3 linked regions of the Homo sapiens genome follow. The protein of the gene in region 2 interacts with the protein of the main gene of each other region in a pairwise test. Each region holds a gene or a part of one and is shown on either strand. Other genes may lie near its edges. The genes, in order: WNK1, SLC9A1 and MAP4K4.

What was found.
Region 1: the proteins of SLC9A1 (region 2) and WNK1 interact in a two-hybrid assay, tested with the Homo sapiens proteins (one large-scale study listed by BioGRID).
Region 3: the proteins of SLC9A1 (region 2) and MAP4K4 interact in a two-hybrid assay, tested with the Homo sapiens proteins (one large-scale study listed by BioGRID and IntAct).

Annotation. Positions count from the first base shown.
Region 1 is NC_000012.12:885,054-888,782, reverse strand, and holds part of WNK1 (serine/threonine-protein kinase WNK1), read right to left. Parts: coding exon 2,699-3,729; intron 1,563-2,698; coding exon 1,479-1,562; intron 1-1,478. UniProt on the Homo sapiens protein: Serine/threonine-protein kinase component of the WNK1-SPAK/OSR1 kinase cascade, which acts as a key regulator of blood pressure and regulatory volume increase by promoting ion influx.
Region 2 is NC_000001.11:27,148,495-27,152,223, reverse strand, and holds part of SLC9A1 (sodium/hydrogen exchanger 1), read left to right. Parts: intron 1-3,729. UniProt on the Homo sapiens protein: Electroneutral Na(+) /H(+) antiporter that extrudes Na(+) in exchange for external protons driven by the inward sodium ion chemical gradient, protecting cells from acidification that occurs from metabolism.
Region 3 is NC_000002.12:101,854,707-101,858,206, forward strand, and holds part of MAP4K4 (mitogen-activated protein kinase kinase kinase kinase 4), read left to right. Parts: intron 1-1,270; coding exon 1,271-1,432; intron 1,433-3,500.

The sequences.
Region 1 (3,729 bases), on a different chromosome or scaffold from region 2:
TGTATCTCATGTTCCCTCTTTTCTTTCTCAGTTTTATACATCTTTCTGGGAAGGTGCCCCTATGAATAAAAGATGGCATTAACATATTCTGTCACTATCACAGGGTATTATTTTCCTCTTTCTTACATGTATACTTCTTCCCTACAGATGGTGGCAAGGAGGTCTGGGTATTCCATCCTGTTAACCATTCCATCCACCGCAAGCACACAGCTTCCTTCTACCCTTCCACAGTCTAATCCTACATCTGTCTTGGCTTCTATCAATCTATTCTTGCACAGTCTTTGCTTAGGCCTTTCCCTCTATCTAGGCACTAGCTATTTACCCTTACCCCTCCACATGTCTCACTTGCTATTTTTTGTCACACTTTATACTCCCTTAGAAATCTGAATCCATGTTTTTAAATGAGAAAATAAGTTTAAAACTAATTTTCTAACTCCTGATTTACGGACTTTCACAATGCACTTTCCCCCAAATGTGGTGGCTGATGGAGTGCTTTCTCTGTTGGGGTTTTTACTTCATTGTGGCAAGTTCCTCAAATAGTGTTCCCCTGTACATTGGGACCAAAGAAATAGGGATAAATTCCAACTCAGCTTCTCAAGTAAGCAATTTACCATGTTTTTCTTATTTCTTATATATGATTCAAAAATAAATTCCTAATTTAGTTTAAAAGTTTACTGGCTTGTCTCATGTCAGAAGATTTTTCCTGGTCACAACAGATTCACAATTAGTACTTTTCTTATGGAAATTCAACAAATGTGTTGGCGGTGGACTGCGGTGGGAAAGAGAAATAATAAATATTACAGGTAATTCTGTCCACCACTGCACTCAAGTGAGCAGAACTGTGTGAGATGGGAATCTCAAGTTCATGAGGCTGGTCTCAGTTCCTCCATGAGTGATCTCATAATGTTAGCATCTCACTGAGCTCGGTGGCTTTTATTTTAAAAGAGACAGCACACATAGTTTTCATGAAACATCACCCCTATACCTACCTATAAGTAAGCTAATTCCTTCATTAGGTGGCTAGTGAAAGAAATGATCAACATTCAAGAAGAGACTGGTTGCTCTGGACTCGCGGAAAAAGTTTCTCAGTTGCCATATTGTGCTTCTCCTTTCTAGGGCACTCTCAAAGTTAATTTTGATTATATACGCAATTTCGCTATTCTACAGAAGTGTGAGTGATAAAGGGAGCTATATGGGTCTGACAAAATGTTTGCTTTGCTGTTTTCTTCCTTCATAAGATATAAAAAAAAAATTAGTATCAAGTGTTTTTGGATAACCGGAAGCAACATTACAAACAAAAGAGCTATGAAGCTTCTTACTTAAGTAGGAACTGGGTCATTGGTTATAACATTTTAAAAGAAAGGTGTTACTAAGTCAAAGACAAATAGGCAAAAGCCAAGACCACGTAGTGGAGAACTTCAGCAAGCTTTGTCAAAGAAAGTAGGGCACAGGAAGAAATTTGTCAAGTCTTGAGGCACCTGGGTTAGAGAAGGTCCTGGAAAAGGTGGCAGCTGCTCGCTGGGTAGAGTACCTGCTGGAAGTTCAGTACCCACTGGCAGCACCTACAGACAACAAAGGGAAAATCAAGTCCGTGAGACGCTAAATATAAAGACTGCGTACTGAAGAGCAAATCAACTAATTTGAATGCACAAACATAAGAATAAAATATATATAGTTAAGACATGTTTATCACTGAGGTTACTCTCTGGTATCTGTCTTAAAAAAACGGTGTGACAACTAATGTTGTTATTATAGGGGTTACTACGATATACCTATAAAATGAATAGTAAAATACAGTAAAAAGTTGTCCCCTAGGGAGAACAGAACAAAGGCTATATGTACATAAGTGGCAGTGTCCAGATATTCTTGAGCTACTTATTTGGTACAGTATGTATCAGACTTTCGCCATGTAAAACAAGATTTTCTGAGAAAAGAAAACAGTAACTGGTTAAGAAATAACCAATGGGCAGGTCTGATAACAAAAGGCATCAGAAATCTAATACTATTATCAAGAATTTCTATTTTATCTGAGTGAAGATTCTGCATTATCCTACTATAAAAAGAACCTCACATCAATGGCAATGCAGAAAGAGGCTGAAGCATACAATACAGTAGACGTAACACAGCCTTGTTATTTGGAGAAGGTGGCAGAACAAGAGGAAATCCACCACAGCATAATTAGATAATAAATTTTAGTTACTTCAGTCCTAGGATTAGATTATTTATTTCTCCTCTGTATCAATTTCCTTACTAACTTCCAATTTTTTATAACCCCCAAACTGTACAACTGTGGAATCTACAACAAAACCAAAAATTTGCTTCATTCTCACTGAAACAAAGACTATGAACTGCTATTATTTACGTACATTTTGCTGACAGATGCATTTAGCTCCCTTTTGGGATACAGACTTCTTCAGTTTGTACCAATTCAGAAGAAATACCTGTATTTTACCCGATAATTATACCATCTTGGAAAACTGTGCAGCATAATTAACCCTAAAATCCTGCCACACTTGAAAAAAAAATCTCATGTTCATTGTAGATATACCCTCAAACTGCTGTCAATTTAATAAATACTATAAGCCAGGTACCTTTATAAATATGTTTCTAACTTACAAGGCTGAAGTGAAAAATGTACTCATTAGGGAGAAAAAAAACTGATCATATTTATCTAATTATTTTATAACAATAATTTTACCGGAGCCTTAGTTAGAGGTGGCTTGGAGGGAGCAGTTCCAGGTTTCACTCCTGATGTAGTAGTGCTGACTGGGGTAGAAACTTGCCCAGGTGTGACCACTGGTGTAACTGGCAAAGCAACTGTTCCTAGTGGTAAATTGGTTGGTGGTAAGCAAGTACTTGTGGTAGAAGTCAGGAGTTTGCTTGGTGCAACAGCAGTAGTTGGGATGCCTGGTGTGACAGTGCTCTCTATGACTAGTGAGGTCTCCAGTGAGACAGAGGCATGCTGAGCTCCAGATGAGCTGTGTTCACTGAACAGAGACCGCAGCTTTTCTTCTAGAGTCTTTATGTCATCAATTCCAGGAGCTTTGGGTTGTGTATCAGAATCTACTTCAGGACAATGAGTATGGGGCTGGTTGGGAAGCAAAGCTGGTTGAGGCTGACTATGAATTAGTGTCTGCTGTACAGCAGGCACATTGGCAACAGGCTGTACCAAGGGTGGGATACTAGGTACTTGGGGTAATAAAGGTGTAGAAGTAGGTCCTGCTGCTTGGGGAAGAATAGGAGTAGAAGCTATCACTGATGGAATGACCAAAGGATGCAGCCCACCAGGCTGAGAAATATAACTAGACACTCCTGCTCCAGGAGAGGAAGAGGAAGATGGTGCAGAGAGGGAGAAAGCCAATCCAGTTGTACTGCTATGAGATGTCTTATCTAGTGAGTGTGCGCTAACTACCACGGTTTCAGCTAAAGTAGGAGTAGAAGTACTGCTGCTAAGCTGAATGCACAGCTGTGAAGCTGTGCTTGGGAATGAAGTGGTGGTAGAAACTGATGTTAATGTGGCTCCCACAGTAGTGCTGCCTGCTGCCTGCTGAGATACTACAGCTGGAGGCTTAGGACCTGGGGTAGCAGTACTGCCCCCTGCAGAGGCTGAAGTTGCTGAAACTGTTACTGAAGGATACAGTGCTGTACTAGAAACAACGATCTCAGATGTGGATGTGGGGACTTGAAGTGACGGGGATGTAGTAGATATTGAGACAACTGCAGGTATTG
Region 2 (3,729 bases):
ATCTCTAGTGCTAATGAGGTCAGCTTGGCCTGGCCTGCTTTGTCACCACCCAAGTGCTGTGCCCGGGACCCTGGGCAGCTGGAGAGCAGAGATGGTGTCATGGCAACAATATCAGTCTAGAAGTCAGGAAAACCTGGCTTCTCTTCCTACCTCCCTCTGTCCTTGGACCAGTCACGCCTCCCTACCCATCAGTTGATCTTTGTGGTCCCTTCCAGGTGTGATATTTCTGTCATTCCACTGACTCTGGAAACTCTGGCAAGTCACTCAGCCTTGGACCTCAGTTTTCCCATTGTAAAATGATGAGGCTGGATGTGGTCTCCTTTCCAAAAGTCTGTTTCTGCCTTGGAAAGGCATTTTTCTGCCTCTGAAAACAGGAGTTCTAGCATCTGGCCATGAGTGGAGAGAAAGGTGGTCTAAAGATCTGAAGAGTCCCTGTTCAGGCCTCAAAAATGAAAGCCCATTTTTCCCAGCTTCACCTTTGCAGTGTGGAATTCAGCCACCACTCTGCCACTTAGCAGCATCTCTGAGCCTCAGTTTCCTCATGTATAAAAGGGGAACTAAGCTGGGCGCAGTGGCTCACGCCTGTAATCCCAGCACTTTGGGAGGCTGAGGCAGGGTGGATCGCCTGAAGTCAGGAGTTTTGATACCAGCCTGGCCAACATGGTGAAACCCCGTCTCTACTAAAAATACAAAAAATTAGCTGGGCATGGTGGCGGCTGCCTGTAATCCCAGCTACTCTGGAGGCCAAGGCAGGAGGATCGCTTGAACCCAGGAGGCGGAGGTTGCAGTGAGCCAAGATTGCGCCATTGCACTCCAGCCTGGGCAACAAGAGTGAAATTCCGTCTCTAAATAAATAAATAAAAAAAAATAAAATGGGAACTAATAGTATCCAGTTATAGTGCTATTAATGTGATTATTACATAAATAAATGCACATAAAAGTTTGTATACACAGGAAGTGTTCAATGAGTGACAGCTGCCCCTGTTAATATTTTAACCACCTACAGCAAATGCATCCCTACCTCAGCCTCCTACAACCTTCCTCTGAGCTGAAGGATTACAAATCTCTCAAACCTAGGCTGCCACCAATGTCCTTCCTTAGGGTATCAGGGTTTCCATGTGTCCTATACTGTTCACTTGAGCTGGTCATGGCGGGAGGGAAGATGACACCAGCTGCCTTGTAGGGATAAGGGTGGGGGGCTGAGGCCATGCTCCCTCTGCACTCTCAGATACCCAAGAGCCTGGGAGCTGATTTTGGGGTCTTGCCTATTCTCTCAACACCCCTGCGTGGGTAGGAGTTCCGTTGGAGCCCTCATTCTGTCATCTATGGCAGCTGCTTCCCTTGCAGGTTACCCCTCCTATAAGAATAGAAAGTGCTTTGCAGTTCTCCTTCCTACCCTAACCATGGAGCAGAGCCTCGGGTAGACTCTTGCAGAGACTGGGGTGGGAGGAGCAGGGTGGGAGCTGAAGTTCTAGAATAGTTGCTTCTGGGTTCTAGTCTACCTCTGACTCAGTGGGTGACATTAGGTAAGTCACCTTCCCTCTCTGGACCTTTTTTCTCTCCCCAGCAGTCAGGAATTCTTGCTTGTCCTTGGTGGGGAGGGGCCAGTGGTGTGAAGAGGATTTAGGCTATTGGGAAAACTGTGGGAATGACTCCAAGCCTTAGGAGTTAGGTGCATTCCCCACCCCACATTGTGCTGTGGACCCCGCATGAACTCTGCTTTGTTCCATGTTCACCTGACTCCCAGGCTAGTACTTATTCCAGAGGAGAGCCTCACTGTAACTCAGCTCACCACTGGCATCTCCTGCAATTGTTTACCCATGTTCCTGACCCAGAATGCCTGGCAGAGGCCCGGGAGCCCATAAAGCAGGTATTCATCTTGTCTCCTGACCAGGGACACAAAAGGCTTCTTTTGTCCCTTTATATCTTATAGCTTTTTTTGGTTTTGGTCTTTGCAAGGCGAATCCTGCCATCTCCTCTGTAGATTAAGTCTGTGAATAGGGGAGATGGGGTCACTGCCCACTTCACATGCATGGATATCAGACCCAGCAACTGGTTTCCTATAAAAATGACACTAGAAGGTGCCTCTCTCACTTCTCAAAAGAAGAGAAGAACAAATAGCCTAAAGGTCACCTTGAAACTGTCTCAAGAAGCCCAGATAGGACTCTAAAAAGGAAGCGATGACCTTTTTCTCTTTGGGAAAATAGCAGACTGACTGCAGAACAGTGGGAGGGAGGTCAGCTGGGGACTGGGAGGAAGGCTTCAGGTAGGACATGTGTCTCTAGGAGTGCCAAGGCACTTAGAGGGCTTAGTTGGTCAGATTGCCCAGACTTCATTCAGCTGAGCACCCTCGAAGTTTGCCTTTCCTCTCCTTCCAAGCCAGCCCCATGGCGTCCAGCCCTGGTACAAAGGAAAGACGTAGTCAGAAGCCCTGGGTTCTGCTCCTGATGCTGCCTCTCAGTACCTGTGTGACCATGAACCTTGAGGTTCATGCACCTCATTCTCTGAACCTGACTTGCCTCATCCTTAAGACCAACGTAGAGGCTGAACGTGGGAATGCCTGGTAGAGTGCCCAGCTCACTGTAGTAACTTTCAGGGCCGTGCAGATTCTTCCCCTTTTGGGAGGTCTTCCCAGCCCACAGCAGTCACTTTCTCTTTCTCTCCCAAACCCTTTTCCCTTATTGTTTATCCATAACAGTGGCATTAGGCCTTGCCTGCCCTGTGACATCTCCTGTGTTGAACGGGTGTGTGTGTTTTAATAATAGTTGCCACTTAGTATCTACAGAGTAGTGTCAGGCACTTTATAAAAGCAATCTTATTTAATCCCTACTCAAATCACATGAGATAAAAGCTGTCTCTGTTTTGCAGATGAGGAAATGGCTCAGAGAGGTTATCTTCAGTGATGTCAAATTGCTATTTATTGTCTGTTCGAGTCTTGGCATAGCCTGCTAGAGGGGTGCAGCTGCATCTCCTGCCTCTGGCATTCCCGCAGCAGATGCACATGGCCCTGCACTGAGAAGCGCCCAGCTCACTGCACCTGCACTCAGGAATTGTAGGACTCCCTCTAGGAGTTGGGCACATGTCGTTGGTGGGAGCCCTGTCCCTGCCTTGAGAAAGCTGTAGGTGTTCTGTGTCCAGCTGTGCACCTGTCCTTTGTTTTTGTGAGTCTTCTTGGATGCACCTGAATCCTGCATTCAGGAGGCCTATCCCTTGTTCTCTGCTAGCAACCCTGCCTGCTATCTCTCTTCCGGTGCCCTCTCAGCCATCAGACCAGAGCTTGCTTCTTCCCTGCTTGGGCAGGGAAGTGCCAGGTAAAGGGTGGTCTCCTTTAGCCACAAGGGGTGGCTGACCTTATGACCTCCCGCCTCTGAGCAGAAAGGTGACAGGCTGCTTTTGGTTACCCTCAGGGCCCAGCAGAGTCCCCTGAGAGGCAGCCTCTGTTGGGAGCAGGTGGCACAACTTTGTTTAGCTCTACAAGGCAGGAGGAGTTTAATAGTACTTCTCATTAGCACTGAAATTTGTTTCCAAAGCACTTGTGTGTACAATATTTAATTTAGATCTTCTCAGTGGTCCTGTGGGTTAGAATAGCATGTGGTATTGATGTGTTCATCATTTTACATCTAAGGAAATTGAGCCTTCGGTTGTGACCTGCCTGAGGTCACTTAGCATGCCTGGGACTAATCACTCAAGGCCAAACTCTCTCCTGCCAGGCCAACATGCTGGGTTCTT
Region 3 (3,500 bases), on a different chromosome or scaffold from region 2:
TATCCATTATAAATATGTCTAACATCCCTGATAGCTTTACCCTAAGCTTTCTTGTTTAATGGTTAATTTTAGTGTCACAAATAAAGTTTGTGTTAATATTATTGGCTCTCTGTGTCTGGGAAATTTGATGGCTGTGCATCCCCTAGAGTTGCTGCTACCCAGTAGCCACTAGCCACATTTGGCCATTTAAATTAAAATTAACTTCAGTGCAACAAAATTAAAAACTCAGTTTTTCATTCATGCTAGCTATATTTCAGGTGCTCATTAGCAACACGTGACTAGTGACTACGGAGCAGTGCAGAGACAGAACATTTTTATTATCCCAGAGAGTCCAGAGTCTAGCTTGTGCTTTACTGGCAGACAGCCTTGAGCTAGAAGAGTGAGTTGTCATCACGTGCCTGGCATGTCATCTTGCTCTGTTCTGTAGGGTTACATAGAACAGTCTGGATTTAGAAAGGCTGAGTGAGTCTGGTGATTCAGTAGCACCTTTTACACCTGTTGATGGGATGCAGGGTAGAGGGTGGTTAAGAGTATGTATGGGCCGTAGAGGCAGAGCAGCTCTTCCAGCTGGGGGCTTGCTGGCTGTGTGACTTTGGGCAAGTCACTTACCTTTTCTGAACCTGCTTTCGCATCTGTAAAGCAGGGATGAAATAATGACTTCCTTGGGTTGTTAGGAGAATTATATTAGGTAAAGTAAGTGGAATAGAAATATCAAATACTTAGCATAGTGCCAGGCACATAGTAGTAAGCATTTGCTCAGTAGCAGTTTCTGAAATACTTATATTAATAATAATGGTCCTGGTTATTCTTGTTGACGTCAGTTCCTCTTTTCCTGATGTGTGCTTCTTTTTTTCCTTTTTTAAATTCTTTGTCTGTCTTTGCTGTATTTCTATTTCCCTTTATTTCTTTCTCTTAATGTATTTTTCTTCTGACTTAAGGGTCCTGCATAACCCTGTTAATGATATCCACGAATAAAGAATTTTCTGTCCCCTAATTGCTGTGGTGCAGTGAGCAGTGGGGAATAATTGTTATCAAAATGAAACTAAACCCTATAAGGATTCACAGAGTCACAATACTTTTGACCAGCATTCATGAAGAAGCCCTTACTTATGGGTCCGAGGGGCAGTGTGGAAATAATTGGCCAGTAGATATGGGGCCCATGAACCTCACCTCATTAGTGTCCACCTGGCACTGACTGATCAGCACACTATAACATCATGAGAAAGATGGCGGGAAGATCCCTGGTAATTATACATTTTTACTTACGTAGCAACAAAGGAGAGAGCGGGAAGCTAGAAGGCAGCAGGAACGTGAACAGCGAAGGAGAGAACAAGAAGAAAAGAGGCGTCTAGAGGAGTTGGAGAGAAGGCGCAAAGAAGAAGAGGAGAGGAGACGGGCAGAAGAAGAAAAGAGGAGAGTTGAAAGAGAACAGGTTAGTTCACAGATAACATAGCAGGCATACACTTGTGAAGTTTGTTACTTTGCAGAGCTGGGGGATTTTTAGAAAGTATACACACATGTGATGCATACACACATGTACACACATACACATATACTTAGAACTTCAGATGTATGAACGTGGTGAAACACAGTTGGAATGACACCAATAAATTCAGTCTCTTGTCTTAAAAAGGGTTTATAAATCATTACACTTTAGGAACCTGTTGAAACCAGTTAAGTGGTCTCTAAATAGTATAATACCTGAAAGATGTCTGCATGTATCTTCTCAGGCTTGGCTTAAATGCTGTAGACCCCAAATATATGGGTGATAATTAACTTTTAAAAAAAAAATGAAATTAAAAACCAACAGTAAGAAATTTCTTAGGAGAAATATTTGAATATCCAGTGGCTAAGTGAATACTGTAATATATATCAGCATGTAATTCTGTATATACACAGCACATTAAAAAAACTAACATTGATGAGTTCAACCAAAAAAGATCAGGTTTTAATAATATTTGCAGCATTTTATTAATGTCAGGTATGATTTTATTTAGAATTATTTTTTTGTTTCCTGAACCACCTGTACAAATACAATTTGCCCTTAGCCCCTTTGCCTTTCTTGTCTTTGAATTGATCTCTTTGTTATGAGCTTGGAATAAAGAAAAAAATGATATGTGAGGACCAATTTAAATAGCACTTGGTATCTGTATTTTAAACTTATAAACCATGGTGTTAACTTTCAAATGTGACTGTTCAGCTGCCGTCCTTTATGCTTATCATGTGTCTTGGGCTTTCTAAGCTTGGGTCTGCATGCTCCTCGGTGTTTTCCCAGGAATTTCAGTGACGCTTTTTATGTTACCTAATTGACGTTGTCAACCATTTAACTGTGTAGCGCGTGTGCTTTAACATTCCACTTATGTTTATACCTGGGGTCTGCAAAGAGGAAAACATTCAAGCTTTTAAGAATTAAATCACCTAGAAATAATGATTACAGTTCGATCATGAGAGGAGGGTGTGATGGTAGCAATTCATCTTTAATGCTCTAGTGGCAGTCATTAAATTTTGTGAATAGCAAGTATTTGGCACCACTTTTAAAAAAAAAAATTCTAAAATCGGTTTTATTCTGTTTTTCCCTGTTCTATTGTGAAATAGTAATTCCCATGTTAACAGTGCTGTAGGACGCATTTCATTTCAGCATAAGTGTGTATGTTTGTGTAGATGCGTGTTGTGTATTGTTTGTTCATTGACTATGTGTTAGGACCTTTGTGGTTTGGAGAGGACATGATTTTTCCAGCTGTCCCTGTGTTGAGGGCAGAAAACAAATGAGTGTACTGACTTGATCTTTCGAGTTAAGATTTAATTCTGTTTTGTTCAAAAAAGAAAATGAGTTGAAAGTCAGGTTCCTTTGCTCCGTCACAGTTGGGTTAAGGCCACAAGCCTTGCTAGGGTAGGTATTGCTGTAGCATGTACCATGGAGGGTCAGACATAGACACAAGAGACGTAGATCCCAGGTCAGAACCAGATATGTTTGTCAGTAGCCTTCTGACTAAGTCCGCCCCACCCCTCTGCCCACACCCCCCCAGTTGGCTTTTTTGGCTCAGTTTTCTTTGTAAAGTAAGGTTTTCTAAGGATTTTTATATGCTGTAATTTCAATATTCTCCCAGAGATATTGGTTAACTAAAACTTCTGTTCAGCCCATATTGATGGCTATTTTTGTTTCAAGGTGTGCACCATGACACAAGGGGATGGTCAGCAGTAGACACTCTTAAAAGGGAATCTGAATTTCAGGATAAAATGTCTCCTCGTAGTCCTTCTTAGTCTATTCCTCTTCTAGAGCTTTTTTCCCTGTCCAAAAAAAGGAAGCCTCTTTGGCTTGTAAAATGTTTTATGCTTTTCAAGGTTATTTCATATCAATCTCATGTCTGAACCTTACAAAAATTCCTGAGGGTTGGGAGAGGAGATTTTGGATGCTCATTTCTCAAATGAGGAGACTGAGAAAAGGGGAGCTTTAGAGCATGCTAGGGATCATAGAGCCAGTCCTCAGTGGAACAGGGACT